Homo sapiens: one gene and its partners. The protein of the gene in region 6 purifies or fractionates together with the protein of the main gene of each other region. This does not show direct contact. Each region holds a gene or a part of one and is shown on either strand. Other genes may lie near its edges.

Region 1 (4,589 bases), on a different chromosome or scaffold from region 6:
ACTGCTTGTACCTCTTTCAAGCATTACTTCATTTTATGTTAGTATTTCATTAAACCCTAAGCCCATGCGAGGCAACTCTGTTATGAACAAAGCACATTTACAGTCCAGCTAAGTCTCTTAGTAATGGACACTTACATGGAATACCTTCTTAGCTCAAAACCACTTGTCACCTATCACCTAAAGAGATGAGATCCCAGCAGTCACATTTACACTGTGCAAGCCTGACCCCACTACCACGACTCAATGTTTAAGAGTGGACTTCTGACTGAAGCAGAGATAACCAGATTCTCTTTCTGGGAATCTGGAATCAGGACTGAAACTAAAGGCTACATGAATATGTAAACTAGGAAGGGAGCTGAGGAATGGCCACATTGTGCCATCTGGACAGAGAAGAGAGCCTCCTAATTCTCAGTTCTAATCCACTCCTGAGGCCCATTTCAAGATTGCTTTCCTGCCATTGTCATCCAGGAGGCACCACTACATCTTAATGATAAACTGTCCTGGTTTACATTACTTACAATTAAATAATCCTAATACAGCCTCTGTCCCAGGCAAAAATCGAAGTGCTTCACCTTGAAGCACTGAACCTGGTAATGCTCACAACAGGCACAAGGAATATACTGAAAGAGTAAAGCAAAAGTTTATTCTCAATATGAAAGATATTTTTCTGTCATTTCCTTAGAATGTTCCTGTCCCCAAAACTGCTTCAAACTTCTTCCTTCTTCTCAAACCATACTGTACTCCCTTAAGTAACAGTCCCAGAGATAACATCCCTCCCCTCTTTTTAACTTTACCAAGAAGATTTTAGGTAACCTCTTTTAGGCTCTTTCATTTTTTTTCTTTTTTTTTTTCATTTACCATTTTCTCATTACCCAGACTTCCCTCTGAAATGGATTATGAAGCTATAAGGTTTTAAAACTCACTTTATCACATTATTAGATGGAGTAAAAACTACCTATTTCCTTTTGCTCTAAACCCATGCTAGGCCAGGCATGGTGGCTCACGCCTGTAATCCCCTGGGAGGCCAAGGCGGGTGGATCACCTGAGATCAGGAGTTCAAGACCAGCCAGGCCAATATGGTAAGACCCTGTCTCTACTAAACATACAAAAATTAGCTGGGCTTGGTGGCGCACACCTGTAGTCCCAGCTACTCAGGAGGCTGAGGCAGGAGAATCGCTTGAACCCAGGAGGCAGAAGCTGCAGTGAGGTGAAATCGCCCCACTGCACTCCAGCCTGAGCAACAGAACGAGATTCCACCTCAAAAACAAAACAAATTTACCCATGCTAAACCAATGGCTGTTAATGGACTAAAAACAAAAGCACAAAAGGTCTACTACATCAGATATGCTCAGATAATGAATGATTCCTACAAATTTTAGGATTCAATGTTTCATTAAATTCACAAGTATTTGCTTATGATTGAGCAAACACAAGCCGAAAGCATGGTGATATGTGAATGTCAGTGGTCACATGTTACCCTTCCAGACATCTCTATATAGATGTTAAATAACCTTTTTCAAGGCTCCACTCATGCCTTCAATTTCATTTACTACTACTTCAGGAAACCTGCTCACAATTATTACCCACTTCACCTTAAACCTGGTCAGGCTCTCCCTCTCCTCTTCTACAAAGAGGGACAGGCTTCTCTTCATCAAAAGAGCTTTCCCACTTGACTCCATTGGTCCCTCTAGTTATTGCCTAGTCTCTCTCTGCCAAACTTCCCAAGGAAGCAGTGTGGACCTGCTGCCCTCTACTTCCTCTCCAACTTTTGTGCCTTGACCCTACAAACAGCCTTTGATTTCACCCAACCTAACCCAATGGCTGCAGCCACGGCTAATTCATATATGATAGCATCATCAAGCAATTTAGCAAAAGATGTTCCTTCTTCCAAACATCTCTGAGGGCACTGGGTCTGGCTGGTGGGCCACTCCCATCCATCCTGTCAGAAGCCCTCAAGAGAAACGCTGGGCAATCTTGCCAATAGCCCCTCCTTGGTCCTCACTTTTCCTGACTTTTCTTGTACTAGTTCACACAAGCGACCATCATCTTCCTGAAACATTCTTCTCTTTTCCTCTTTGGCCTTCCTGATTCTTTTATCTCTTTGGTAAATCCCTTCCTCTACATGTAGGCTTACTAGAGTAGAAGTCTTTGGTCTTCAGGAATTTTTCCTTTATATACGGCTCCCTCATCAATTCCATTCACCTTTAATTATCACCGCAATAAGCACCACCCCCAAATCTACATCTCTAGGTATTCACTGACTACTTCCACTCAAATTCAAATTAAAAAGAGAACTCATTATTTTAAGAATATCAGAAAAATGGGGTTCTCAAGTCAATACCGTGGTTATTTTGAAGTTAATTGTCTCTGCCTACTATAGAGGGTTGAAGGTAGGAAGAGTTCTGGATTGCCAATTAATGACAGACCTTCATTTCAGTGTTACCAATGACAACCTACAATACAATCAGACTCCGCCTTCAGAGGACATTAATTGGAGTTATCTAGTGAGTGGAGTATCAGAATTCAATGAGGATAGAAGGATGGAAGAGGTCAGAGATGGCTTCATCAACTTCACACTTGTTTCAATTTCTAAACCCAACAATAAATGGCAACTAATATGGTTTGACTATGTCTCCATCCAAATGTCAACTTGAATTTTATCTCCCAGAATTCCTACGTGTTGTGGAAGGGACCCAGGAGGAGGTAACTAAATCATGGGGGCTGGTCTTTCCCGTGCCATTCTCATGACAGTGAATAAGTCTCACGAGATCTGATGGGTTTATCAGGGGTTTCCGCTTTTGCTTCCTCCTCATTTTCTCTTGCTGCCGCCATGTAAAAAGTGCCTTTCACCTCCTGCCATGATTCTGAGGCCTCCGCAGCCACGTGGAACTGTAAGTCCAATTAAACCTCTTTTTCTTCCCAGTCTTGGGTATGTCTTTATCAGCAGCATGAAAACAGACTTAATACAACAACCATGACAACAGGCCTTTCTCAGTTGTCACTTATCCTGACCTTTCTTTTACTCTCATCATATATAGTTGGTCTCAAGAATTCTGAGGAAAATAAGGCAGTTTCCTAGACTCCAAAATAACCAGTTCTCCTAAAAACATTCCTCCTTCCACTTGCCTTCTCTATTCCTATATATAATTATTCATAACCAAGACACCCTATGGTTTGAGTGTCCTCTCCAAAACTCATGTTGAAATTTAATTGCCATTGTAACGTTATTAACAGGTGGGGCCCTTAAATGGCAGTTACAACATGAGAAGGTGAATGCCATTATCCCAGGCTCCTGATAAAAGGATGAGTTTGGCAGGATATTCTCTCTCTGTCTTGGAGACTCACCTGCCCTTCTACCATGTTATGACAACATAAAGGCCCTTAGTAGATGCCTGTGCCATGCTCTTGGCCCTCCCAGACTCCAGAACTGTCAACCAAATAAACTTCTATTGTTTATAAATTACCTAGTCTGTAGTATTGTTACAGGAGCAGAAAATGGATTAAGACACTCCAGGACAAAAGTTCAAATTTGACTCTTTCTTTTAAATCCAATATGGCAAAGTGTATATTAAGCCTATCAATTCTTCCCTTGGAATGGTTCTCAAATCATTCTTTCTTTCCACTTCTCCCCCTAAAACAACAGAAAACATTTTTAACTCATCCAGAATTTCCTACTAAATCAGTAGAAGCCTTTACTCTTGCTCAACTGTGAGACCTTTTTAAACCCACTATTAATGGATCAAAGCTGGCCCTTGAGTTTAAACTGCTTTAGGCCTCCAATCTCTCCTCATGCTGCATGTTAATACCAGGCTAAAGTTTCAAAACGCATTTATCATGTCACCATCTTGGCAAGCCACTGTAGCAAATGTAAACCCTTACTGGATACTGAACATCCTTCACAATCTGTCAACGTATCTTTCACATGAAACTTCTAACTACTTCCTTCACAAATCATCTACTCTGACCTGTCAGGTGTACTTGTTCTTTTCCAAAACAGCTTTAGTCATTTTAATCCTTGATCATACCCCCAATACCTTCCCTTTCGGAATTTTAACTATCAAAGATCCATCTTCGAGTCCCACTTTTTCCATAAAGCAGTCCTCTCTCCTCTGAAAGAGTAGCCACCCTTTGGAACACTGATTGAACATTTTGCCAAACACTGAGTCCTCTTACACATTTATGAGATATTGTCTTCACATCTAGATTGTAAATTTGAGATACAAAGCCATACTTTTTCACAATAAGCCTGTAAGTGAGAATCTGGAAAATCATGATTTTCTCATTAATTCCATAAAATAAAATAGCATTTGCAGGAGAATAACTCAGACCATAGAATATTATACTGGATCCACTTTCCTAAAGACAAAATAACCGCTTAAAATTTTTTAAACTGAGGTTTTGAGAGACGTAAGAGATGTCTGTACAATATACCTGCCTCATTATTCTAAGGAGTCTTCATCTAGTATCAGATAAGGCTGCTGAATGGGAGTAATACTAATATTAAATTTAGGGCATTCCTAAAAGTTCTCTAAGAATAAAATCCACTGTGGAAATACCACCAAAGAAATCGCAAATCTGTCTCTACAAAA
Region 2 (4,589 bases), on a different chromosome or scaffold from region 6:
AAGCAAAAAAACCTGTTCTAACACAACTTTTTGTGTGTATAATTAGTGTGTAATTCTACACACTACACAGCCCATCACAGGGGGAATGTGTTCATAAAACTGCAACCATATTGTATCAGTAACAACTTTTCCCCAGAAAGAAAAATGTGGGTATCCTTGAAGCTGGGAAGTGAACAAACTACAGGTTAAAACAGAATGTACCAAATTTAATATTTCCACATTTCTAAGCACATTTTTTTCCCCAGCTGAAAACTGCTTCATTTTCTATTGACTAGAAGCAGCTGATGAGCGGCGATTCAAGCAGAGGACACACACTGACTTCCAAATGCTTGAATGGCGGCTCTCAAACCTTTTGTCTCAAGACACTTTTACAAGTTGAGAACACCAAAGAGCTTTTGTTTATGTGGAATGTATTGCTATTTTCAAAATTCTAAGTATGTATTAAAAATAAACCTATTAATACATTAATAGTATCTTTAAATGAAAGTTATTTCTAAAACAAACAAAAATGAACAGGAAGAGTGGCCCTGTTGTACATTTTTGCAAATTTCTGGCATAACCGAAGACAGCTCCATGTTCATGTCTACTTCTGCCCTCAATCTGTTCCCATAGAGTGTTTCAGCTAAAACATGTCATCAAAATCTTGCCTCACACAGATAGGTCTTTAGAATGGAGTATTGTAACCATCTTCACATAACTGGATGTTCACTGATACTACACCAACTCTCGCCAAGGAGCAGTTTCATAAAAGTTAGCTGAAACAGAATTTGCAGCCTTTGTCAAGGAACTTCTCCCTTTCTTTCATGAAAACTGACTGCTGTGTTCACTCTGAACACGTCCTTGCACTCTGGACCCATGTGCATGCTGTTCACCTGGATGACACGGGTTCAAGTAACAGACAGATTCTCAATGTCCACACATCTCATCGGATAGCATAAAACAAACATTTTTTTTCCTGTTGCCCAGGATGGAGTGCAGTGGTGCAATCAAGGATCACTGCAGCCTCAGCACCTCCCCCACCCACACCACCGCCAGGCTCAAAGCGGTCTTCCCACCTCACCCTCCCCAGTAGCTGGGACTACAGGTGCATGCCACCATGCCCAGGTAATTTTTGCATTTTTTTTTGTAGAGACAGGGTCTTACTATGTTGCCCAAGCTGGTCTCAAACTCCTGGGATCAAGTGATCTACCCACCTCCGCCTTCCAAAGTGCTGGGATTACAAGTGTGAGTCACCTCACCTGGCCGATAATGTCGGGTCCAATCTCCAAGAAGACTTTAATTACTAGAAAGCCATCAGGTTTACAATGGCAGATACAAGTTTTCTAAAATTCCAATTTTCACCCCAAAGCTCAAATTTTATCCTTAGCAACAAATACTGTTCGTTTTTTCTTTGAGACATCACTCGTTTTGGACAAAACGCCTGCCACATGCTGAGTCTGAAAACTGTCCTCCGTCTGTTGTTCTGTCAGGGACAGACAGCGTTTCCGAGACCACTCGGCTCCCAGCTCAATCCCCTAGGGCTGTGCGTGGACAGTACCACGTGGGGATGCAGCAGAAGCTTTATATATAACTTGACATTTAATCACAGCGAAAGTAAAAAAGATGTATGTTTGCGGGTTCCGAAAAAAATTAATATTTACTGCATCATCAGGGACATTATTTGGGAAAATTGGCATATTCTAAACATTCGGTGCCCATGCACGGTGCTGAAGAGGGCTCCAATCTGCCCTGTGCCACCGATGCAAATGTCAAACTCACCAGAAAAGGCCTGTACTATTAGACTATTATTATGCAGAAGTCATCTTTACCTCTTAGCCCCAGAAAGGGCTTCAAGGACTTCCCCCTCAGGAGTCCATGAAACACAAAGAACTGTGGCAACATGCCATTTCTACCAGTTTAGGAGTACACTGGATATGTGCAAAGCAGTAATACATACCTATGCTTCAGACATCAGAAGAGACTTTAAACATTTCCTTCCACAAGGGTTCTGTAACTACCTGTTAATCTTCCCTCAGATTCCCCAACTCACCAAAACAGTAAGCAGCCAAAAGTGAAATTTCTTAAAAACCAAATAAAAATATCTTCCCAAAAGGTCAGCTCTGTTACTTTAAAAAGCCTAACTGCAACTATTACAATGCATGGGTTTGCAACCACTGCAAATCTGTATGCTCAACTTTTACTACTCTAAAATCTGCTTGAAGTCATTAACTCAAGCGTGCCCACTTCCAGGTTGTGGTACAGCTGCATGATCAGGGCTCACTGCAGCCTCTACCTCATAGGTTCAAACGATCCTTCTGCCTCAACCTGAGTAGCTGGGACACCACTGGCGTGAGCCACAGTGCCCAGCTCCCACCTAAAGATTTTCAGTTCCAAAAACTTGAGACTAGTTTCTGAGTAATTAATCTCCAAGACACTTTAAAATATGACATACAACCATAATTAAGTTTCTATTTTCATAACATCGCACCTCCAGGAAAAGAGCTCTGACTTCTAAGCAAAAAGATAAAACAAAAATGCATAGTTTACCTCACCTAGTGGCAAACATTCTGTTTCTTCAAACCTCACATTCCCCTGAAACAATATTCAAAACAATTTTAACCCGCCAGTCAGAAATTATAATGCTACAATAAAACCTCACTATTCTAAACTTCATTATTTTCGCTAATTCTGACAGGGTAGGCCAAAGTTTACATTTATTTATATTTTGCCTATTAAGGGTCTCCTGGCTCATCAATCTGTTTATTATGCAGATGAGGAGCAACTGAGAAGACACTAGGTAAAAGATCTTTAAACTACCACAAATGAAGGAAAGATTACCCAATGAAAGACTCTTGATAGCTCAGTTTTCATTAATGCGACAGTCACTAGGAGAATATGCCTAGAAACTTCAGATGACATCCCCAAATGCGACGTGTTCTCCAGCCACCAGCAGCAGCCGTTCATGTACCATGATGGCCCACTCAAAGCTCCACCAGCTTGCGGCAGGAAACACTGTGCTGCACTCACCAAACAGGAAAGAGATTTGGGCCCACAAGGAACTGAAGAAGCCCAACTTTCATTTACTTTAGTATCTATGCAGAATCTGACTCAATTGCATAGATTACATTTAAATCCTTCAGACGGCAAATTCAAAGTTTTGCTGCTTACCAAATAATACCGTCATTACAAAAATTATTCTGGGCCGGGTGCGGTGGCTCATGCCTGCACTTCGGGAGGCTGAGGCAGGTGGATCACCTGAGGTCAGGAGTTTGAGACCAGCCTGGCCAACATGGTGAAATCCCCATCTCTACTAAAAACACAAAAATTAGCAGGGCTTGGTGGCAGGTGCCTGTAGTCCCAGCTACTTGGGAGGCTGAGGCAGGAGAATCACTTAAACCCGGGAAGCGGAGGTTGCAGTGAGCTGAGATCGTGCCACTGTACTCCAGCCTGGGCAACAAGAGCAAAACTCCCTCTCAAAGAAGAAAAAAAAAAAGCAGCAAGGGTGCCACAACACAGTATGTTTCTCACAAAGAAAATGTAGAGAAAAATCCAGAAACAACCTATTGTTGTTTTACATTTCTTGGGTATTTGTGTTTTTATAGATACGCGGAGACAAAAAGCAAAACTTGTTACTGAAAAACCTGCTGAGGACTAATGCTTTGGCCAGCCCCCGGCTACAGCCGGGCCGCCAAGCTCCCCATGTGAGCTTGCAACAATCCTGCCATTTCCCTCTATCTACTTCCTAGTGCAAAACACAGGCTGGTGACCTTGGTGGGCAACTCAGGTGGGAAATTTCAACTCTCCAAATGAATGCCAGGAACCAGAAACAGTCACATAAAATCATTTATCGAGGTGAAGGAGAAGTGAGGTTTATTGTTCTCTATTTAATGGCTGGACATAAAGTCTCCTAAACCACTACCTTTGATGGACTCCTCTTGTCTCAGTAAAAAAGAAAGTATGGTTTCAAACACTTAAGATACGGTCCCAATTCTACATACCAGGATTCCTGTTGCTCTTAATAAAAGATTACCACTTGGGCCCTGGTGAGGACCACAATGCACAGGTTCTTATCCCCATGAAGAAATCCACCTCATGCCGCAAGTGTGGCAGTGTGAGCTCCCCGGGTACCATGTGAGTGGGGTGCGCTGCGGGAGGTCATCCCAGCAGGGTACTGTGGGGGCTGCTTCCCCTCAAGGGCATCTGTTTATTACAGGTTTAAATCACTGTTCCTTTATGTTCTCCTCGGTCCACACCCTTAGAGACCTGCATAATTCCATGGCCCCAAGCACAGCCTACTCTTGCCTCCCCCCAACCCCCGATTTTCACTGCTGCAAAGGATTCAGCAAGGGGCTGTGTAGGGCACTTTGAGGGAGAGGTGTGTACTGGAACAGCTTTACCGGTGACAGCGCATCAGATTGATTCCACACTTGCCCCAAGGGGCAAGCACATGGTTGAGCCACTAAAAATTGTTCAAAGACACAGCTTATCTTCCTAAAAGTAATCAATTTCCCCAAGTGTTTAGAGCTATTTTACAACTCTTAGAGAAGTGGTTCTCAAAGCGTGGTCCAGGGGTCCTTTTGGGAGGCCCCCGGATCAAAGCAGTCTGCACA
Region 3 (4,589 bases), on a different chromosome or scaffold from region 6:
ATGTCTGTGTCTGTAAAATCTACAAAAAAAATCGGGAAGAATATGCACTGTTCTGTTAATGAACCTCTTTGGTGGGGTGAGTTTTGAAGGGCAATGAAAGATAGTATGGCAGTTATTTTATTTTGGGAGGGGAGCTCTCTCTTTTTCTGAATAAAAAGGGTAAAATATAATGAGTCAAATTAAACAAAATTCTGTATTCCATGGCATATGTAGTCCCAGCTACTCAGGAGGGTGAGGCAGGAGAATGGCATGAACCCGGGCGGTGGAGGTTGCAGTGAGCTGAGATCGTGCCCCACTGCACTCCAGCCTGGGTGACAGAGGTTGACTCTGTCTCAAAAAAAAAAAAAAAAAAAAAAAAAACACGGGGGGGGGGGATATAAAAATATATATATATATAAATGTAGAGAAGAGTACATATACATCTAAAAATATCATATCTAGATTTCTAAAATTAAGTGAAAGATCATTTTTCAATCATTTTCTAAATAAGGTAGATTATACATTCCCTTTTTAATTTAGAAGAGTTGTAAAATTATAATTTATTTTCCATTAATAAATTTGAAAATATTAATAAAATGAATGATTTTAGAATGTTATATATTACAAAACAGATAAAGAAAATATAAAACCTTATTAAATCAATAATCATAAAAGAAAACTACAGCTCTTAAACAACTGATTCAAAAACAGGATCTGGGCTCAATTTTTTTTTTTTTTTTTTTTTGACAGACTCTCGCTCTGTTGCCCAGGCTGGAGTGCAGTGGTACGATCTTGGCTCACTACAACCTCGCCTCCCGGGTTCAAGTGATTCTCCTGCCTCAGCCTCCCGAGCAGCTGGGACTACAGGCGTGTGCCACCACACCCAGCTAATTTTTCTATTTTTAGTAGAGACAGGGTTTCACCGTATGGCCAGGCTGATCTCAAACTCCTGACCTCGTGACCTGCCCGCCTCGGCGTCCCAAAGTGCTGAGATTACAGGTGTGAGCCACCGTGCCTGGCCTCTGGGCTTAATTTTAATGAGGAAACGTTTCAAACTTGTAACATGAAGAAAATTCCATTCCCAAAGGCATAGAAAACAATGAAAACCAATTTTATAATCCTAACTTGAAACTGACACAAAACATAAAAACCACAAAAGTAGAAGCCATAGGAAAATGTAAATATAAACGAACAAATCCTTCTAGCAGGAAATACTCAAGAACATATTAAAAGATAACTGCCTGGCTGGGTGCGGTGGCTCACGCCTATAATCCCAATACTTCGGGAGGCTGAGGTGGGTGGAAAATAAGGTCAGGAGTTTGAGGCCAGCCTGGCCAACATGGCAAAGCCCTGTTTCTACTAAAAATACAAAAATTAGCTGGGTATGGTGGCACGCGGCTGTAATCCCAGCTACTAGGGAGGCTGAGGCAGGAGAATTACTTGAACCCGGGAGGCGGAGGCTGCCGTGAGCTGAGATCACACCACTGCACTACAGCCTGGGTAACAAGAGTGAAACTCCATCTCAGAAAAAAAAAGGCCTACCACTAAGTAGAATTTTTTTCCAGAAAAGTAAAATTTTTTTTTTTTTGAGACAGAGTCTGGCTCTGTCGCCTAGGCTGGAGTGCAGTGGAGCAATCTCGGCTCACTGCAAGCTCCACCTCCCCAGTTCACGCCATTCTCCTGCCTCAGCCTCCTGAGTAGCTGGGACTACAGGCGCCCGCCACTGCGCCCGGCTAATTTTTTGTATTTTTAGTGGAGACGGGGTTTCACCATGTTAGCCAGGCTGGTCTCGAGCTCCTGACCTCGTGATCCGCCCGCCCCGGCCTCCCAAAGTGCTGGAATTACAGGCGTGAGCCACTGTGCCGGGCCCAGAAAAGTAAAATTTTAAAAAATCTTTTTATTTTAAAGTAATTATAGAAAAGAAAAATTGAAAAACTAGTTCAGAGTCGTCCCTTGTGCCCATCACCCAACTTCCCAAACTCCAACAGTCACATCTTATATAATTATGGTACATTATCGAAACCAAGAAACCGACACAGGCACAATCTAATTAACTAAACTACAGACCTTGCTCAGATGTCACCAGTTTGTACATGTACTCATTTTTTGGTATGTCTTTATGCATAGTTCTATGATGTTCTACCATATATAGATTTGCAAAACTACCACCACAATCAAGATAAAGGACTGTTCTGTCACCACAGTGACACTCCCCTGTGCTCCTCCTTTACAGTCACAACCCCCGCCTTTCATTTTTTTATAGTAATTATGTATCATATATTTAAAATATTCTCCCTGTTGAGAAGCATAGAATATGACTTTTAGATCCAAGAACTTACCTACTTGTCTCTTGTTATCATTTCTGAGTTGCTCATTTTCTGGCCTTGAAACTTTGTGTACTTCAGCTACAGAAGAAGACATGCAAAGTGCCAAATCAACTCAGGGTACATCATCAAAAACTTCCATAGTTAGAAATGCAAACAAACAAACCAAAAAACCCAAAACAAAGCCTGTGCAATGCCCAAAAAACTATACCCACACCACCACCACTTTGAGTCAAATTTGAAAGACCAAACATTCTATCATATTCAGTTTAATTTTCTGGGATCATTCACATGAAGTAAATCCTTCTAATGAAAATAAAGTGAGTGGAAAACATTGATCAGTCAATTAAGGAACAGTAAACAGCTAAAGTTCTACCTCGCCTGTGCTCCTGATTCTCTCCTGCCTTTTGGCTGGCAGATGGCAAAGGCCTGGTTGATACAGGACTCCTTCTCCCAACAGCTGCTGGAGCAGGTAAGTGGGCTGAGGCGGTCTGCACTGCTTGTTCCATGGTTGGGCTTTTTCTCAAAGGGTCTAACTGAGGGCTTGAGCGACCTAAAATGTAACCAAAAGATAACAAACTACCCTATTGGGGATTTCAAAATAATCTAGACCCTAAAAAAAATTGTCCAGAGTTTTATTTCTATCAATTCAAACCCTTAGCACAAATTTGAATTAATCCACTTATCAGACCAGATATTAAGAATGGTATCCTTAGTGGGCTTGTCATTAGGTTAAAAATAAAAAATAATAATAATTTAAAAAAAAACTTCAACAGCTTCAAAACAACTCCCTCCCCCTCACAATTTTATCTGTTATTTCTACTTAGTGGAAGAGTTTACATCAAAAAAAAAAAAAAAAATTGCTGCCAGGTACGAGATTCCCTAGAATTATCCTACAAATTATCATGTTGTAGTCAGGTCAAACACAGGCTTTCGCCAATGACAACCATAAGACTATGGTGACTTGTTTTAATCTTTCTTAGTACTTTCTGTAGATGACTAAAACAATACCTTTACATCTATCTACAGGTATTAACTCCATTAAATTTCTATTATAAGAAAGTAAAGGGCCGGGCGCAGTGGCATATGCCTGTAATCCTAGTCCTTTGGGAGGCTGAAGCAGGAGGATCGCTTGAGCCCAGGATTTCAAGACCAGCCTAGGCAACATGGCGAAACCCTGTCTCTACTGAAAATACAAAAATTAGCCAGGCGTGGTGGCGCGTGCCTGTGTTCCCAGCTACTCAGGAGGCTGAGATGGGATAGCTTGAACCCGGGAGGCAGAAGCTGCAGTGAGCCGAGATTGTGCCACTGCACTCTAGCCTAGGTGACAGAGCAAGGCCCTGTCTCATAAATAAATAAATAAATAAATAAATAAATAAATAAAGTAAAAGAACTACAAAGTTAGATAGGTGAAGTTCTTTAATGCTTTAGGGGCTTGGGTAATTAAACATAAAAACTAAAAGGCCAGCAAAAAAACAAACAAACAAAACCAAAAAACAAACAAAAAAAACCCTTCAGATAATTACACAGTAGCCATACTCATTCCTTGCCTTTTAAAAGATCTCTTGGCAAGTTTTTGCTTAATATGGGGTTTGGCTGGGCGCGGTTGCTCACACCTATAATCCCAGCAATTTGGGAGGCTGAGATGGGCAGATCGCTTGAGCTCAGGAGTTCGAGACCAGCCTGAACAACATGGCGAAAGCCTGTCTCTACAAAAAAAATACAAAAATTAGCCAGGTGTGGTGGCACATGCCTGTAACCCCAGCTACTCAGGGGGCTGAAGTGGGTGGATTGCTTGAGCCTGGGAGGCAGAGGTTGTAGTGAGCCGAGATCGGTCCACTGCATCCAGCCTGGGTGACAAAACTAGACTCTGTCTCAAAAAATACAAATATAAAAGAGCCAAAACAAAAAATGGGGTTTGTACTTATACATTATATTTTTCCTTTTATGAGGTCGCCTGGTCACAGCATGAACTGAAGAATGTAACATCGGGTGCTCCCATCATGCTTTCTGTCCTGATAATGTTTGCTGTACATCTCTGCTTAGGCACTCACATCTCATAATTATTCCAAAATATAATGTTTTGCTTAAAAAAAATGCTCATTTCACGTAAAAAAATCCCCCAAATATGCTGCAAATGTTACTGTCCATCTGTGCATATTTGCAGGTGTCAAACAACTGGTGAGTGCTGACAATGCATTATTATGTACCTAGATGATTCAGGGATAATTTATTAGTAATATTTCCCCAATTTATGATTATCTAAAGTATGCACTTACAAATGTG
Region 4 (4,589 bases), on a different chromosome or scaffold from region 6:
TGTTATTACCCGAGTGGGATGTGGGTTGGTTACCATGGGAATGGGCTCCTGATAAAAAGACGAGTCTGGCCACCACTTTTCTCTCTCTCTAGGGCCCTCTCTGTCTAGCTTGCTCGCCATGTGATGCCTTCCACCATGGGGAAACCTCATGGGATGCCTGTGCCATGTTCTTAGGCTTCCCGGCTTCCAGAACCCTGAGCCAAATATTTTTATAAATTACCCTGTTAGAGCAGCAAAAAATGGACTAACACACATATGCTATCATATAAAGAGCACTCTCACACTATCAAAATTACATCTTCGTAATACTTTATGCCAGCAAGTACATTTTCTGGAATTTACATTATGTACTTGTACAGCAATGTGCAAATTTTGCACCCATGCGAAACTGATATATTTACAGGGTTACATATTACAACACAGTTTATAGAAAGAAAAGAATGTGAAAAAAACCCAAATATCCACCAATATGGGGTACACTAAATAAATTACTGAAGATATATAAAGGAGAATATTGTATAGCCATTAAAAACAAGTAAGAGGAAAAAAGGAGGCCCCTATGTTCCGCAATGGAAAAATCTCCAAGTTACACTGTTAAATGAAAAAAAGAAAGTTCCTTGTGTACATGCTACTTTTGTGCAATAAAGGGAGAATTAAAATATTATGCATTTGTATCTGCCTGAATATGCTTTTACAGACATTCTGAAAAGATTTTAAAAACCCGTAACTGAGTACACTTTTGGAGACGGGGTTGGGAATTGGGGATTGGGTTGGGGGTAAGGTAAAGGGACTTCACTGTTTCTCTTCCTAAAAAAACAAAATTTGAACCATGTGATCATTTTGCCTAATTAAAAAAACAAGATTTTTAAAGTAAAGCAACTTCCTTCAGATAAAATACTAATTCTGCACTTTAGATTGGGTAAAGAATCAAGTTTCTTCACTTAGGTCTACAAATACAGAAGGCAAAAGTGTGTTGTGTATGTATGTACAGCAGAGTTGATTTTCTCCGGGACTACGGCTCAACAATGTTAATCACCAATGCTAGGCATACAGTGCCTACTAGAAGTATTTAATGCAATGATTTAAAAATTAGTTGAATATACTGTCTATATACAAATATTGGTATTTTGTTCTACTATGGCTTTAGGCATAAATCTTAATTACACTTTGACAAAAAAAAAGACTATTCAAACACTAACAACCGTCATCTCTCATTTTAATATAGTCTCTCAAGTGATAAAAGCTGGTTTCCTGTTCATCCACCACTTGTAAGTGTGGTATGACCCTATACCTTATTTGCTAGGTATTTTCCTAAATCCTACCCTCTCTCTGTAGTAACTTTTTCTTTCCTGATGACTTGACTTGCCGGAGAATACAACCATTGCTCCTTTCCCTGCTTGTTTCACATTTATGCACAAGAAAGCAGTATTTGCATGGGGGGTTGGGGATGCATATATGTATTTATACAGATGAGTAATACTAAGCAACTCACTCACAAGGATTACGTAGTGGACAGCTTGGAGGCCAAGGAGAAAGCTAACATCCACAATACCAGAACCAATACACTGGGGCAGACCCTCCTAGCCATTATGCCCATAACCCTGTTCAATCTCACAAAGGTGGCTTTCAACTTTGTACCCCAAGCTAAAGAGTGACTGGTGGTAAGAAGTACACACACAAAAAAATGTTCCATTATAGTTAAAAGGCCTACTTACCCCTCCCAGTAATCTCTGCCCTATTTTATTTATTTATTTATTTTTAGACAGAGTCTTGCTCTTGTTGCCCAGGCTGGAGTGCAATGACACGATCTTGGCTCACTGCAACCTCCGCCTCCCGGGTTCATGCGATTCTCCTGCCTCAGCCTCCCGAGTAGCTGGGACTACAGGTGCGTGCCACAACGCCCGGCTCCTTTTTTTGTAGTATTTTAGTAGAGACGGAGTTTCATCTTGTTAGCCAGGATGGTCTAGATCTTCTGACCTTGTGATCCGCCTGCCCTGGCCTCCCAAAGTGCTGGGATTACAGGCGTGAGCCACTGTGCCCGGCCTCTGCCCTACCGTCTTTACCCAGAGGATCTACTGATTTTATAAAGATTACCTTCCTAAGCATTCTCCTTCTTAAACTGTCCATAAATTTAATCAAGGTAGTTCTTAGCAACAGTCCCTTTAGCAGACAGAGATACTGAAATCTATTCTCTATTTGAAATATATGTAACTTTATAAAATTTTAAAAATCCATAGAAATATTTCAAGAGTGATTATAGAAATGGATGAAAAACAGCACAATTAGAAACTATGCCACTATTCAGAAATGTGATTTCTACATTTTAAACCTTCCAAGATAAACAGCCTGATCCACTCTGCCATTTATAATTTTAATTCCTTTATTCATCTTCCCTTCCATAACTTTTTAAATGTATATCCCACTTTAGATAACCAATGAATAAAAAAATGAAAAAAATATATTTGATACGATTAGTTCTGACACTTAGTAAACTACGTCAGTAAATTTTTCTGAGGTATTCCATGTACAATGTTAAATAACAGAAGGGTAAAACGCAAGGATCCCCTTCATCCCTGTGACAACATATTTATTCTCACAGTTACCTCCTTAGGGTTTCTAATATGCCAAACCATCATTACAGGATATCATTAGCTACCATCTAAATTCCTATCACCACCTACTCCCTTTACCCCCTTTTATTCTTAATTCCCCTCTTGTGACATTTATATATAATCTTAAATCATTTTTGAAACTTCAACCTTAGATAATATCTCCATGGATTCCATGTTACCTGAAGTGAAGACAACTGTTTCAAAAGGAGGAAGTGACTGAGATTGAGCTTTGTATGCAATATTATGTACAAAAAGCACTGCCTGAGCACTCTGGAGAGACTGCTGTATAATTTTGCCAAGGAAAATCAGATGCCTTTGGAATTTTCTTTATACTTTCTGTTCTAAAATTTCACAAATAAAGGTATTATCTAGATGTGGCTCTTTTAATCTTCTGTATCCTACATTCTCTCTTTTTACAGTTCTTCTGTCTTGGTCATTCACTATTTTGTGCACTAAGTTTTCCTTAAATGCTTAGGGATACCTGGCATGAGTTTATTAGGAATGATTACATCAGGAGTGTCTTTTCTGGTTCCTACAACAGACTTTCCCCTGCGTCCCGGCTTTTTCATACCTCTTCACTCACCAAGTTTATTAGTTCTCCCTCACAGTTTCTAAGAACTGCTACTTTGGTGATTCAAGGCCCCATCTTTTGACTGGCCTTCAGTGGCTTCGTGTTTCCAATTTGTGTCCTACAAACCCATCCTTCACAATGTCAATACACTCACTCATGTCCAGAAATTTATTTTTTAAATTACTGTCCCAAATACATTAACATAAGGTCTTCAACCAGCTTTTTATCTTAACAATCAGGAAAAAACCTCTCGCTCTCTGAAAATCCTTACCTGACTTACCCAAAACTTCATTTCAAATTAAAATATTTGACATTTACATTTGGTGCCTTATTTTTCCTAAGTATTGTACCATTTCAACTTATAGAAATGCTTGCTCTACTATAAGATACCCTGTTCTTTTTCCAACTGTGTTCATTTCCTGTGGCCACTGTAACAAACTGCAACTGGATGAAATTTATTATGGAGTCAAGAAGTCCAAAATCAGTATCACTGGAACAAAAATCAAAAGTGTTGGCAGGGACACACTTCCTCCAGAGGTTCTATGGGAGAATCTGTTCCCTGCCTCTTCCAGCTTCTGGTGGCTGCCAAGGTTTCTTGGTGTGTGGACACTTCACTCCAAGATCAACATCCTCAAATCTCTGTGTTTGTTTTCACATCACCTTTCCTATGTGCATGGATTCTGTCAGGAGTCTGAACACCTTCCTTCATCGTGTCATGTGTCTTTTTCAGTACCAGTTGGCAGTTTCTGCTGACACAACATTCTCAGAAACTTTGGAGGTCCCCTACACGTCACATCATTAAACATCGTTCTCCATAGATATTTCCTGGATAATCTCATCTATTTCTGGCTTTTACTGAGATAGTACGGGAACCTATGAGTTACATGCATAGTTTCTTCCACACAAACAAAAGGCTGTCTAGCAATACCCCTGGCCTTCTTTCCAGAGACAGTTTTTCTAACAGTGAACACCTTTTGCCATCTGAGTAGCCTGAGATATTCCCAACATCCAGTGCTGGTGGTTCTTTCTATACTTATCAGTTCATTCTTCAATTTAGCTTTTCTTGCCACTTTACTATAAACAGGAAGAAACCAGGCTGCAACTTCAACACTTACTTAGAATTCTCAGCTAAATATGAAAAAGTTTTAAGTTCTGCCTTATATACAACTGTAGGACACAATTCAGCCAAGCTTTCTATCACTTATAGAAAGGATCTCTTTCCCTCCAGTTTATATGTTCCTAATTTGCTTCTGAGCCCTAACCAGAAGCACCTTTAAAATCCATATTTTTGCCAACAGTCTTTAAAGGCAACATATGCATTTTCTATCATGTGACTCAAAACTGGAGCCTCTACCCACTGTCCAATTCCAAAACCACTTCCACATTTTTAGGTAACATATTACCAC
Region 5 (4,589 bases), on a different chromosome or scaffold from region 6:
TATGAACAAACTAAGCAAAACCAGATGTACAGAAAAGTTCACAGAATAACTAAAAGCATAAAATGCAAATAAAATATGATGTTCAACCAAGGTAACTTTGTAACAAAAAGAAAGGACTTGATCTTAAAAGGCCTCTTCCCCATATCAAATCAATTCAGGTCAACACACTTTTTTTCCCCTTCATTTTACTGAAAAAGAAAGAAATGCAATGGTCTTCAAAGAGTACCTCCTGATATGCTGAATCTAATGCCAGAATTTTGTTTTGGTTAAATTGTTTAAAAAGCTTAATTAATTAGACCAGCCTGCCCAACATGGTGAAACCTTGTCTCTACTAAAATTACAAAAGTTAGTTGGGCGTGGTGGCACACACCTGTAATCCCAGTTACTAGGGAGGCTGAGGCAGGAGAATCACTTGAACCTGGGAGGCAGAGATTGTAGTGAGCCAAGATTGTGCCACTGTACTCCAGCGTGGGTGACAGAGTGAGACTCTGCCTCAAAAAAAAAAAAAAAAAAAAAAAGCTTAATTAAAGTGAGTTGATGATTTACATGTGTGAAAAGGAAGGGAGGACTACAGAAGTGTCTGATAAGTTGAGGTAAGAATAATTTAATAGAGCCAGGTGCGGTGGCTCACACCTGTAATCCCAGCACTTTGGGAGGCTGCAGTAGGTGGATCACGAGGTCAGGAGATCGAGACCAGGTGAAACCCCATCTCTACTAAAAATGCAAAAAATTAGCCAGGCATGGTGGCAGGCGCCTGTAGTCCCAGCTACTTGGGAGGCTGAGGCAGAATGGCGTGAACCCAGGAGGCGGAGCTTGCAGTGAGCCGAGATCGTGCTACTGCACTCCAGCCTGGGCAACAGAGCAAGACTCCATCTCAAAAAAAGAAAAAAAAGAATCATTTAATAAATGGAGATGTCAAATATCATACCTATTTGGAAAGGCTGTGAAATATGCTAGAAGAATTCACAGGTGATACTATATTAGTAAGTGTTAAGAAAGGCATTAAAAAGCAAGTAAAATACAAGGTCAGAAAAAGTAAGATGAAACTTCTGGAGAAATAAATTTTCTGCATCTGGATTAAATTATTCAAAATGCAGAGTATATAAAGAGGAAGGAAACAGGCTCAATAAACTATGCACAGTAAAATAAAACTCAAACAGAATGACTAAATCAAATATTCATATCTATAAAAAATATCTCTAAAGTAGGCAAGGTGCAGTGGCTCATGCCTATAATCCCAGTACTTTGGTGAGAGGATTACTTGAGCCCAGGAGTTTGAGACCAGCCTGAGTAACACAGGGAGACCCCATAGCTACTAAAGATAAATTTTAAAAATTAGCTAGGTGTGGTGCTGCTCAGGAGTCTGAGGTAGGAGGATCACTAGAGCCCAGAAGACAGGGGCTGTAGTGAGCCGTGTGGCATCACTGCACTCTAGCCTGGCTGACAGAGCCAGACTCTGTCTCAAAAAAAAAAAAAAAAATCTCTCGACTATACTCACAAAACTGGTCTTTTACACTGTTTCTGATAGGTATGTTTTAAGCACTTTGATAAACCATTAGAAATTCATTTTTAAAAGAGAGGGGATGATTAAAAAGAACGTCCTATTAAAATGAAAACTAGATGAGATAGACTGCTTTTTCTTCTCCCGCTCAGTGCTCTGCTTTTGAAGACTCATTTCTTATAATCTCCACATACCTAAGAAGCCCTTTTTTCCAAAGCAGTATAATGCATTTGAAGTAGGGAAATTCAATCAGGTTTCCGTAACCATTAAACATAATCTGTTCATGCAGTAGACCAGTCAGATCCAACGGTTAGTCACTTAAGTAACTGAGAATCCTCCCCAATGGTAAACTATGCTGAGTTCTTAACTTCTAGATATGTTTATGTCTGCATATATGCTAAGTTTATTAAGCTCACCAAAAGTTCTACTATTAGGAGATAAATACATTTTTAAAGGCTTAAATTCTTTATATACACAGTCACACTAATTTTTCCATGTGAACACTATTAATTTACTTGTTTGCTCAGTAAATACTGAATGAACTTCCAACAGAAGCCTACTTTCAAATACTGACTTAACTGTAGTTTTAAAAAATTTACTCAAAATTTATTTTAAAAATAATATGCTTTAGCCATTTTAAGGTCTTTTAAAGGAAAATATTTTTTAAATACAGATTATTCACCCAAGCATGAGTTATTTGATGTTTATAATGATAGGAAACAAACCACAGAAACAAATTAGAACTAGCTTTCAAGCAGATAAAGGCAAAGGTCAGAGGGAACACCATTTATATCTAAACACAACAGGACGTTAACACATATTAAGACTGTGATTACAAAACCTCCAAATGACATCAGGAGACAATTTCTTAGAAATGAAATATAAGAACCCTTTTATACAATTTTGGAATAATGTGAGTTTTCTAGCTAGACCTACATTTAGCTGTCCACACTAGCTTTGGAATAATTCAGCCTGAACTCAGCTGCTGGCCCCTTGGGATCATAGGTAACTACACAGTCCTGTTTTTTTCTTTGTTCTCGTTTCATTCTTTTGTCTACTTATGTACCATGTTGGAAAAATACTATCCTACTACCTTTGGAAGTTGTGGTGCCAAGAAATGATGGAGGACCATATTCTCTTGATTCTCAACATTTTCCAGAGGTGAGAGAAATATGGAAGCTATTAGTCTTGCCTTGGGCCTAAGTGAATAATGCCAAAAAAACACTCATGACAATTTGGAGAATATCAAGGCAGCAACAAAGGAAGCAATAGTCACATAGGAACACACAGCAGAAGCTCTACAACAGAAATGATGAAATGAAGATCAAAGTCATCAGAACACTCCTGTCAGTATGCTTCTAACTGAAGCACCTTCATAATCAGATAAACAGTGATGAAGATAATTATCTGCTGACAATGACGATACATGGTGTAGAAATCCATATGGCTTCCTCAAATTACAGTGGAAAAAGACTTAAATATCACAAGTAAAAGAGCAAAGAGTTAGATAAGCAGATTGACTATGACCATGATCATCCAATTATCATAATTTTTTGAGAAAAATTATTTCCATTTATTTGGATTTATTTTATGGATGCTTCCAGGAACACATCTAAAGCATTACTAAGGAACAATGGGAATGTGTATAACAGCTCTTTGTAAACCATAATTCACTATACAGGGGGCTGTATCTATACAGGACTTAGTTTTTAAAGTCAGTCTGTAAAGTGAAAACTCGAGAACAAAATTCCCCTTGCAAACTCCTTAAAATGCCATCACTTTCTGTAAACTACCTCTTTACAAAAATAAGATATAATAGATGTATAAATAGATACTGTATTTAATAACATATAATATGTAGTAAAGGGCCAAACTATACAAAACACAATAAAAATCTTAAATATTAGAATCACACTCTATGTGCTTACAAAATGAGACACACACGAGACTATGGGACAGCTGAGTATTCAAATCTCCCACCTCTCAACCTCTCATCAACCAAGCCATATACCTACTAAAGTGAAATAGAGGGAGAACGGTCTTGACAATTTAAACTTACTTTTATTTCTTTTTTAATTTTTGGTTTGGCATACAGAGTTGGATTTGACTAAGTAAAAAATAACAAATGTAAAGTATTATTACTAATTTTTCTTAAACTGTATTGGAGCAAAAAACTTTATTAAACTCAGGTACCCTCTCAGAAAAGATAAATAATAATCAGGACAAAGAAAAATGAAACAAAAATAGTCATATGACATTTTGGTCAATGAGAGACTGCATATACGACAGTGGTCCATTAAGATAATACTGGATTTTTACTGTACTTTTCCTGTGTTTATATATGTTTACATAAACAAATACCACTGTGTTACAATTGCCCACAGTATTCAGCACAGTAACATGCTGAACAGATTCGTAGTCTAGAAGCAACAGGCCATATCATATGACCACACAGCCTAGGTGTGCAACACGTTATACCATCTAGTTTTGTTTAAGTGCACTCTGATGATGTTCACACAATGATGAAATCGCCCAATGACTCATTTCTCAGAATGCATCCCCATTGTTAAGTGACATATGAATATAAATGGCTTACTGGTAGGCACATACCTGCTTCGACTTTTGTCTACAGGAAAGATTCGAATAGATTTATCGAAACTAGCAGACACAAACTCCTTCCCAGTGGGAGAGTAATCCACATCAAGCACTGCAGATACATGATCCATATGGACCATTACAGGAGTGTCCAGTGCACGCATATCAAAAGTATATAAGCTGTAAAAGAATTTTTAAATATTTGACACATATTTCTAGAAAGATGCCATATGCAGTACTAAAAGATACCACTGAAAACAAGAACCATTTGCAAAACAATGCACATCTAAACAAAAAGCTCAATGCTGTACACAAGCAGGTGAGGGATAAGGAAAAATTTCAACAGTTTTTATGATTCCTTAAGACTCCACTTATATATATACCAACACATTTTCCACCCTATAAATCTCATTGTAGAAAATGTGGAAATTTCAAAAAAAGTAGAGTACAAAAATTACCTTGAATTCTACTACCCAGAGGCCAGTTATTTAGT
Region 6 (3,500 bases):
CATTCATGTGCAGATATTTGTGCACATCTCTGATTCTTTTCTTGTGATGAATTCCAAGAAGTAAAATTTCTAAACCAAATAAGCTTTCACTACATGCTGTCAAATAAAGTATGGGTTAGAACACGCCATACCCAGCAGTGAATGAGGATCACTACTCCTTTCCTCATGCAAACACTGCATGTTCCAGTTATTTGCTTCCTGAGGCAGATTATAAGGATGTAGTCACTCAGCTCTGTTTCACGCTCTGCTGTGAACCCTCAAGGATGGAAAGTTAATGACTCTATTCCCCTGGCTTCCCCATATGCCAGTTCTGCAAATGACCTGAATTGTGCCAAGCTGACTCCCCTGTGCAAGGATGTGAAGGTGGAAGGGACACAGGGGCTGTGCTTCGGCTTCTTCTACTGCCAAGCATTGTAGTAGGGACTTGTTTTTTTGCAGTAGCAGAAGCAGAGTCCCAGGATCCATTTCTTACGTTACTATGCGAGATGCAGAAGGTAAGTTTTCATTTTACTGGCATAGATGCCCCAGAGCCAACAGGTGTGGCAGTGGCTTCCCGATATCCCAGTTTCGTGATCATGGCACTGGCTGAAGCATTCTTGGTGGCCCACTTTTAGGGTGGAGCCACATTCTGGGGTTGGGGCATTCCTGGAACATCAGCTTAGACCCTCCTCCTCCAATCCTGGAACAATCTTTTTTTTTTTTTTTTTGGAGACAGAGTCTTGCTCTGTCGCCCAGGTTGGAGTGCAGTGACACGATCTCAGCTCACTGCAAGCTCCACCCCCTGGAACAATCTTATAGTCACCTAATTCCCTGTGTCAAAACCCACTCTGCTTAAGTTGGCTGGAGTGACTTCTGTTATCTGCAGCTGAACTCTGACTAATAGATGCATGTGACACACATACAAAATGTTACCTCCTTTAAATCTTTTACTATTAGTAAGATTGACCATCTTTTTAAGTGTCTATTAGTCATGCGTAATTCTGTCTTGGGGAGCTGTCTCCTAGTCTTCGGAGTTCCTTGTTAAAGGCAGTTCCTTTTAAAAATTGATTCATAAGGAAAACTCTCTTTGAGTTGGGGATACTAATCGTGCAAAAGTATTATTTTGTTTGGTTTGTTTTCCCCTCAGTATGTCACTTGTCTCTTAACCTTCATGATAAATCCATTTTTCACCACGAGGGACTTTGTTCATGGTGTTTTTTTGTTTGTTTTGTTATTTTGTTATTTTTATTTTTAGAGAGAGTGTTTTGCTCTGTTGGCTAGGCTGGAGTGCAGTGGTTGGGTCATGGCTCACTGCAGCTGTTACTGGATAGAGGTCCCGATGCATATCCTAAGAGAAGGTTCTTGGATATCATGCAAGAAAGAATTTCAGGTGAATCCATAAAGCAAGAGCAAGTTTATTAACAAAGTAAGGGAATAAAAGAATGGCCATTCCATAGTCAGAATAGCAGCTTGAGCTGCTTGAATGATAATACTTATAGTTATTTCTTGATTATATGCTAAACAAGTGGTGGATTATTAATGAGTTTTTGAGGTGGGCAATTCCTGGAACTGAGGGTTCCTCCCCCTTTCAGACCATATAGGGTAACTTCTTGATGTTGCCATGGCGTTTATAAATGGTCATGGTGCTGCTGGGAGTGTCTTGTAGCATGCTAATGCATTATAATTAGTATATAATGAGCAATGAGGATGACCAGAGGTCACTCTCATCACCGTCTTGGTTTTGGTGGGTTTGGGCTGTCTTCTTTACTGCATGCTATTTTATCAGCATGGTCTTTGTGAACTGTATCGTGTGCCTATCTCCTGTCTCATCCTGTGACTAAGAATGCGTAACCTCCTGGGAATGCAGCCTAGTAGGTCTCAGCCTTATTTTACCCAGCTCTTATTCAAGATGGAGTCACTCTGGTTCAAATGCTTCTGACATATTTACCCCCTCCCTTTTACAAGGAAACCCTTAAGCCTAAGGGTTGTAGAAGTATGTAGATCCATCTTCTGTAATTTCTTCAGACTGAATAGGGGCGATGATATTCCTGCCTAACTATTAGGGTCTCTTGTATTCAGGGTAGAGTGGAGCTCAGTCAGAAAGTGTCGGTATGGCAAGGACCATTCATAACTCTTGAGTTCCGACAAAAGGTGATATCTGGAAGATTAGTAAGTGTTCAATTTAAGAAAACATTGAGTAAGCTCATCCTACATTTCTATACAAAGAGTACAACAGCAACATATTCCACAACAGTAAAGTAAAATAAGCAAAATTATCCCAAGTAAACTGAATAAGAAGGCTTTCCAGGAACTGGGCAATTGTTGGAACCAAGCTGATATGGGGGTCTCTAGCTGATTCCAATATGTGCCCAAATTAGAATATTGATCCAGATTTTTACATTACCCATCCCTCTTGTTTCTTCTGAGCTGCAGCCAGAGATCACCGATTGGTTCACAGGAATAAGCAGGGTCAGTCTAAATTGCAGAAAAAAACTCAAAAACAACTGATGAGACTAGAATTTAATAACTGGTGTACCACAGTTTTTGAAACCTAATTTTTCTCTCTCCAGTCCTCATTTTAGTATAAAACAAATCATAATTTGACAGATTTGGTTTATTATACCTGGCCTGATTATTTGTATAAAGTGCAGCAAGAATGATTATTTTTCACATAGGCTTTTTAAATTGACTTTGGTGGAACTTTGTTCCATGAAAGGAATCTCAGATAAGACATTTTTAAAGCTGAGGCCAGCCATGGGTTGGTAGCAGATACCTACGAGTTTGGGTAAATTCCTCTCCTTAAGAGGTTTCAAGATAACTTGGGGCTCTTGGGCCTGTCAGAAAGTGACATTCTTTGGTCAGGAACCCTGTACAGTGACTGTGTAGGCAAGATACGAGGCTAGTTTTCCCAAGGGGCTTTTATTGGCTCTATAAGTCAAGTTTGATTCCTTAAGGGAAAGCACATCATTACAGTCAAAGCCTTGGTAAAATAACCGATGTCTCCAATTGCATCCAATTGCAAAATGAAATGGATTCTTATTGTACTTATGCAGATAACTATATTGCCATAAATTAAGAATATGCAGTTTCCAAATTCTGGAGAAATCAGGTAGAGAGAAGCAAATATACTCCAAATTTTGTTCACAGTAGTATACTTTACTCAATTATCAAAAGTTGTAAATAGCTCAAAATAAAAATTTTTTTGGCTCTGTAAAAGATCAGGAAAAAGTCAGAAAGATTGGTTCAGACTTCTGTTAGTTTAGTTCATGCGCTTAATTCCTGTTCTGTCTGATGCTCATGAACATTTCAGCTCTCCATGAAAGTCCTGAAAGATTTTTTCTAACATCACAATGTCCAAAGTTATCAGAAACCTGCATCCAAGAGCATCTGTCAAAGTCCTATAGCTGATTAAGGGTCACCTTTTAAAGAGGATCAAAACAAGGTAACAGTTGCCTGTGGATGACAAAAAGTTTTAGGACAGCCGCTATTATAGCCACAATTGGCTAGAAATTGTGGTTACT
Region 7 (4,589 bases), on a different chromosome or scaffold from region 6:
CTTTAAATATTTAAACAGAATAATACAGGTTGAGCATCCCAAATCCCAAATCCAAAATTCCAAACTTTTTGACTGTCAACGTGAGGTTCAAAGGAAACGCTCATTGGCGCATTTCAGATTTTGGAATTGCGATGCTCATCCAGTAAGTATATATAATGCAATTTTATTTCAAAATCTGAAATTCTAAACACTTCTGATCCCAAGCATTTTGGATAAGGGAGACTCAATCTCTAATAATGATTGAGGGCAGGGCTATTTCAGGCACTGCACTAAATACTTAGTTCAAGCTCCTTTATACTTAATCCTTACAATCACCAATACTATTGTTATATCCATTTGGATATATTGGAAAGATGTAAACATACTTGAGAGATTAATTAAGTGTCCAGGATCACATAACACTTACGAGAATCAAGATTTGAACCCAGGTCTGCAATAATGCAAAGCCTGGATTCTTAATTATTAGGTTGGCTTGAAATATGGTATCCTCAAAATTTATGTAAGTTTTTCAAATTTATCAAGTGTTACAGTTTACTTCACATAGGTCATTTGTGTTTATTAAGGTAATTTCCAAGAACTTTATGTGGTTTTGTTTCTAGTATAATTAGATTTTTTCCTTAATTGGCCAGTGTTAGCAATAAGGAATGCAATTTATTGTTAAAAACACTTCTTATATGCTGTCCCTTTACTGAGCTTTTATTTCTTTGGATTTTTAATGTGTAAACAATCATATAACCTATCAATAATAATAATTTCACCTCTTCCTTTCTAACATTTATACCTGTTACATAAGTTTCACACTCAATTGGATTGGACAACTTCCACAGTATTTTCCTAAAAAGGAAAACTATGGCCAAAAAAAAAAAAAAAAATCAGATTTAACTTAAAATGCCTAGAAATATTTATTTCAAAATGAAATCAATTCTCACCTTGACGGAAAATATTACACCTCCTTTGGGTTTAAATGAATTGAACAGAGCCAGCAAATCTTTTGCCTTTAATCTATCCCAGTCCATGTTACAAACTGCTAATCGACGTGTAATCTGAGAAATGAGAAGAATTAAATAGTACATAATCCATATCATTCTCAATACTTGAAAAATAAAGATTCTAAAAATGTAATGCCTTCTGTCCCCTATGCTCTGAAATTAATAGTACAGGAGTTATCTAAGCGTAATTCAGTATATAAAAGAGAACTTCAAATGAGCCAAACAATAGTAAAACCATAACAGGTAAGTACTTTCTCTTACTTGGTTCTTAATTCTTAAATCAGAACATGATCATGAGCTGATTTTTTAACCACCAAGTTTGTTCAGCTATTTTGCCATGCATGCATGAGTAAGGAAGTTGAGTATGTTACCCTGCAACATTTCTTTTGGGTGCCGTACAAACAGAAATACAAACTACTAGCTAAAACAAGTATTAAAAATTTCATGCAACTTTTAATTATTTATGTAGAGCCTCTTCTTATCTGCTTGGACGTCTTCTAGTTCATATAATTATATTCCATATCAAATTTTAATCAGAATCATAAAGAATACTATTACCAATAAGCTTTTCCCACTTAATGACATCAGTTCTACCAGCCATAAAAGCTGCTTGTACTGTGTTTTTCACAAATAATCTTGTTTATTCAAAAGGTTACCTCATCAGCACGAGGAGCATCTTTATCTAATTCTCTCCAAGCATGCTCAAAACCAGATTCTTCTGGAAACAAATCTGCCGTATCATCTTCATCTTCAGAACTAGTTTCTATATTTCCTTTACCCCTTGCAAGATCAGGGCCACTGTCACTTTTATCATCATCCTCACTATCCTCATCTTCATCCTCCTCTTCATCTTCATCCTCCTCTTCATCATCTTCACTTCCATCGTCATCACCTGAAGCTCTACCAACACTTGTAATTTCATTTTCAGATTCCTCATCACTTCCTATTTCACTAACGCTTTCTGAATCTTCCTCCAGAGCATCTTTGTCACACATTTCACCATCTGTTGAGTTTTCATAACCATCACTGTCTCTTGTCATTATGAGTTGAACCACTGCAAAATGTTAAAGGGGAAAGAAATTAAGAAAAGATATATGCTGAATTAAACTGAATCCAAATTATCTTGACATCAACTCCAGTAAAAATATAATTTCTATGAAACACAGTAAAGACAAATATATATTCAGTAAATGCTTAGTCAATTTTTATGATAGAAATCCTAACCATAACTTCTATGAAACAGAGTAAAGGAAAATACACTTAACCAAGTTATTTAATGGAAATCCTAACACATGCTCACATCACGCAAGTAGATCCAGACATTCATTCAATACTTAACAGTGTGCCTGCTACGTGCTAAGTGCTCAATATACAACAGTTGGTAAAAGAGAAGCAAACAGTGCTCTCAGTGAAACTTCTAGCTGAGTGAAAAGAATACATGGATATCAAATAAAATCAATATATAGGAAAAGTTAAAATCACAACTAAGATATCCCAGAAAGAATGTTTTCTAAGGGGATTTAATGGGGTCCCTAAGTGAGTGATAACTGAGCTGTTACTTGAAGGATGAACAGGAGTTAAATAGTCAAAGTTAGACTAATAGATGGAAATTTGTTTGAAAGAGCAAGGAAGGTACCTGTAAAAATCTGCCAATAGGAAAAAGCCAACCATCATGTCCAGATCACAGATAGCACAGAATCAAGTAACAAATGGAAATGAAGAGTTAAGTAGAGGCCAAGCTATCAAAAAACCATATAGAGAGCTTGGACTTTTTCATAAAAGCAATGGGAAGACACTGCTGTTTTCAAAAAAGAGGATGTCATCTTCTTTTGGATATTGTCATCCTCAGACTTGCATATTGAGGAGATCACCTTGACTATACTGTAGAAAACTGACTTGGGAAAGTAAAGAACAGATGTGAATATAGTAAAGGTAGTACAGTACAAAAAGCAAGAAATGAAGGTAGCACTAAGTTGGGTGGCAGTATGTATGCAGAGATGTACATGGATTTCAGAGTCAGTCAGGAAGTGAAACCAATAATTACCGACTGGAGATTTGACACGGGGACTGGGAGTTTTGGAAGTGTCAAAGATGAGTCATAGCTTCTTAGCTTTCAGAGCTAGTTAGCTAAGAAGATGGAAAGATGAAAAGGGAACACTGGAAATGAACTAGTTTGTTTGGTGGAGGGAAATCATGAGTTCAGTTTTGAATATGTTGAATACGAAGTGCCACTCAGTCATCTAAAAGAAAGTATCAATAATAAGAGTGTACAGCTCAGAGAAGTCTGGGTTGGAGATCAGTGACTCATTCATACGCAGTTGACAACAGAAGCTGTGATGTGGATGAGATCACCTATAAAGACAGAGAAATAATATTTATACTTTTTCTGCCAGGTCTTGAACTTTGTAATCAACTGTCATGATTAGCAATACACCAAGATTGAAAGACTGTTTTTGCTTAAGATGGAAATTTTAGTCCTCACAACTCTGAAAGGGCTCATTTCCTACTTCTAAAGCAATCACAGGCTTCTATCTACTTGGTGTGTAGATATATCTTACGTGTTTTACTCATCTTTAAGTTGGAGCTTATTTTCTGCTTACAGGCTCTAAGTTTGGAAAATTAAAAGCAAATTTAAAAGTTCAAGATTTAGAATGAAATTGGAACTAATTTTCTCTTGGTCCTATAATCTTATAATAGTTATTCACTGACCAAATATTTACTGAGTATCTACTACATACAAAGAATTGAGCTAGGATAAGGGAAAAGAGAGAAGATTTGTAACACGATCTCATGCTCTTGATGGATTCATAAATAAAAGGTAACCATTTACTGATTTATAAATCTATGTTCTCAATCACCATACAGTGAGAGACATCTAAATTTGCCTGCAGAGAGGTATTTATAAAAAGGCTTCACAAAGATACAACTTGACTTGAGACTAACTGAATGAAAAGGCATCTTGTTAGAAGGAAAAGCAGGAAATGGGCTTTTATGTTACCACCACAACGAAGCAGGGATTAATAAAAATAACTAGCCAATAGAAGTGAAAAGCGCCAAAATGAAAGCATTGTCACAGGTTCTATATATGAGATCTGAAAAACACAACATTGAAAGTTACTATGAGGTAAGCAGAATTTACTTTTAAGCAACAAGCTTAGAAATAACATCTTACAGACCCAGTCTATCTAGTATTGCAATATTTCTCAACTGTCAGTCATTATACCATTTTCATGATTTTTGAATATCATTTTTTTATTAAATTGAATTTTTTAAAAGTTAGTTTTGCTCTAAACAATATTCCTAAAGTCACAGAAGTGATAGGGTAATTACATTGTTTTCTAAGATGTTGACACAGTACATAACTATTAATATTTTAGAAGTTTGAGTATCATCAAAAATCTTCTCACTTATGACAATGGTACACATACCACACTTTGGGTTATATAATAATAAAGTGTTGCATAAGAGACTTAAAGAGGTCTTCCATTTCAATGTTTTTAACAATATCAACTGCATTCAGAGTATTTATTCATTCAATAAGTATCTGCAGCCGAGCACAGCTGCTCACGCCTGTAATCCCATCATATTAGGAGGCCAAGA

Evidence for each region.
Region 1: the proteins of IFI27L1 (region 6) and PAXBP1 purify together in Homo sapiens (affinity purification with mass spectrometry; one large-scale study listed by BioGRID and IntAct). This does not show direct contact.
Region 2: the proteins of IFI27L1 (region 6) and DIDO1 purify together in Homo sapiens (affinity purification with mass spectrometry; one large-scale study listed by BioGRID and IntAct). This does not show direct contact.
Region 3: the proteins of IFI27L1 (region 6) and LSM14A purify together in Homo sapiens (affinity purification with mass spectrometry; one large-scale study listed by BioGRID and IntAct). This does not show direct contact.
Region 4: the proteins of IFI27L1 (region 6) and ARGLU1 purify together in Homo sapiens (affinity purification with mass spectrometry; one large-scale study listed by BioGRID and IntAct). This does not show direct contact.
Region 5: the proteins of IFI27L1 (region 6) and DCAF13 purify together in Homo sapiens (affinity purification with mass spectrometry; one large-scale study listed by BioGRID and IntAct). This does not show direct contact.
Region 7: the proteins of IFI27L1 (region 6) and ESF1 purify together in Homo sapiens (affinity purification with mass spectrometry; one large-scale study listed by BioGRID and IntAct). This does not show direct contact.

Annotation. Positions count from the first base shown.
Region 1 is NC_000021.9:32,764,875-32,769,463, forward strand, and holds part of PAXBP1 (PAX3- and PAX7-binding protein 1), read right to left. Parts: intron 1-4,589. UniProt on the Homo sapiens protein: Adapter protein linking the transcription factors PAX3 and PAX7 to the histone methylation machinery and involved in myogenesis.
Region 2 is NC_000020.11:62,916,087-62,920,675, forward strand, and holds part of DIDO1 (death-inducer obliterator 1), read right to left. Parts: intron 1-4,589. UniProt on the Homo sapiens protein: Putative transcription factor, weakly pro-apoptotic when overexpressed. Tumor suppressor. Required for early embryonic stem cell development.
Region 3 is NC_000019.10:34,213,391-34,217,979, reverse strand, and holds part of LSM14A (protein LSM14 homolog A), read right to left. Parts: intron 2,857-4,589; coding exon 2,680-2,856; intron 2,385-2,679; coding exon 2,319-2,384; intron 1-2,318. UniProt on the Homo sapiens protein: Essential for formation of P-bodies, cytoplasmic structures that provide storage sites for translationally inactive mRNAs and protect them from degradation. Acts as a repressor of mRNA translation. May play a role in mitotic spindle assembly.
Region 4 is NC_000013.11:106,547,007-106,551,595, forward strand, and holds part of ARGLU1 (arginine and glutamate-rich protein 1), read right to left. Parts: intron 1-4,589. UniProt on the Homo sapiens protein: Dual function regulator of gene expression; regulator of transcription and modulator of alternative splicing. General coactivator of nuclear receptor-induced gene expression, including genes activated by the glucocorticoid receptor NR3C1.
Region 5 is NC_000008.11:103,435,313-103,439,901, reverse strand, and holds part of DCAF13 (DDB1- and CUL4-associated factor 13), read right to left. Parts: intron 4,277-4,589; coding exon 4,112-4,276; intron 1-4,111. UniProt on the Homo sapiens protein: Part of the small subunit (SSU) processome, first precursor of the small eukaryotic ribosomal subunit.
Region 6 is NC_000014.9:94,087,810-94,091,309, forward strand, and holds part of IFI27L1 (interferon alpha-inducible protein 27-like protein 1 precursor), read left to right. Parts: intron 1-3,500. UniProt on the Homo sapiens protein: Plays a role in the apoptotic process and has a pro-apoptotic activity.
Region 7 is NC_000020.11:13,774,228-13,778,816, forward strand, and holds part of ESF1 (ESF1 homolog), read right to left. Parts: intron 2,044-4,589; coding exon 1,646-2,043; intron 1,044-1,645; coding exon 930-1,043; intron 1-929. UniProt on the Homo sapiens protein: May constitute a novel regulatory system for basal transcription. Negatively regulates ABT1.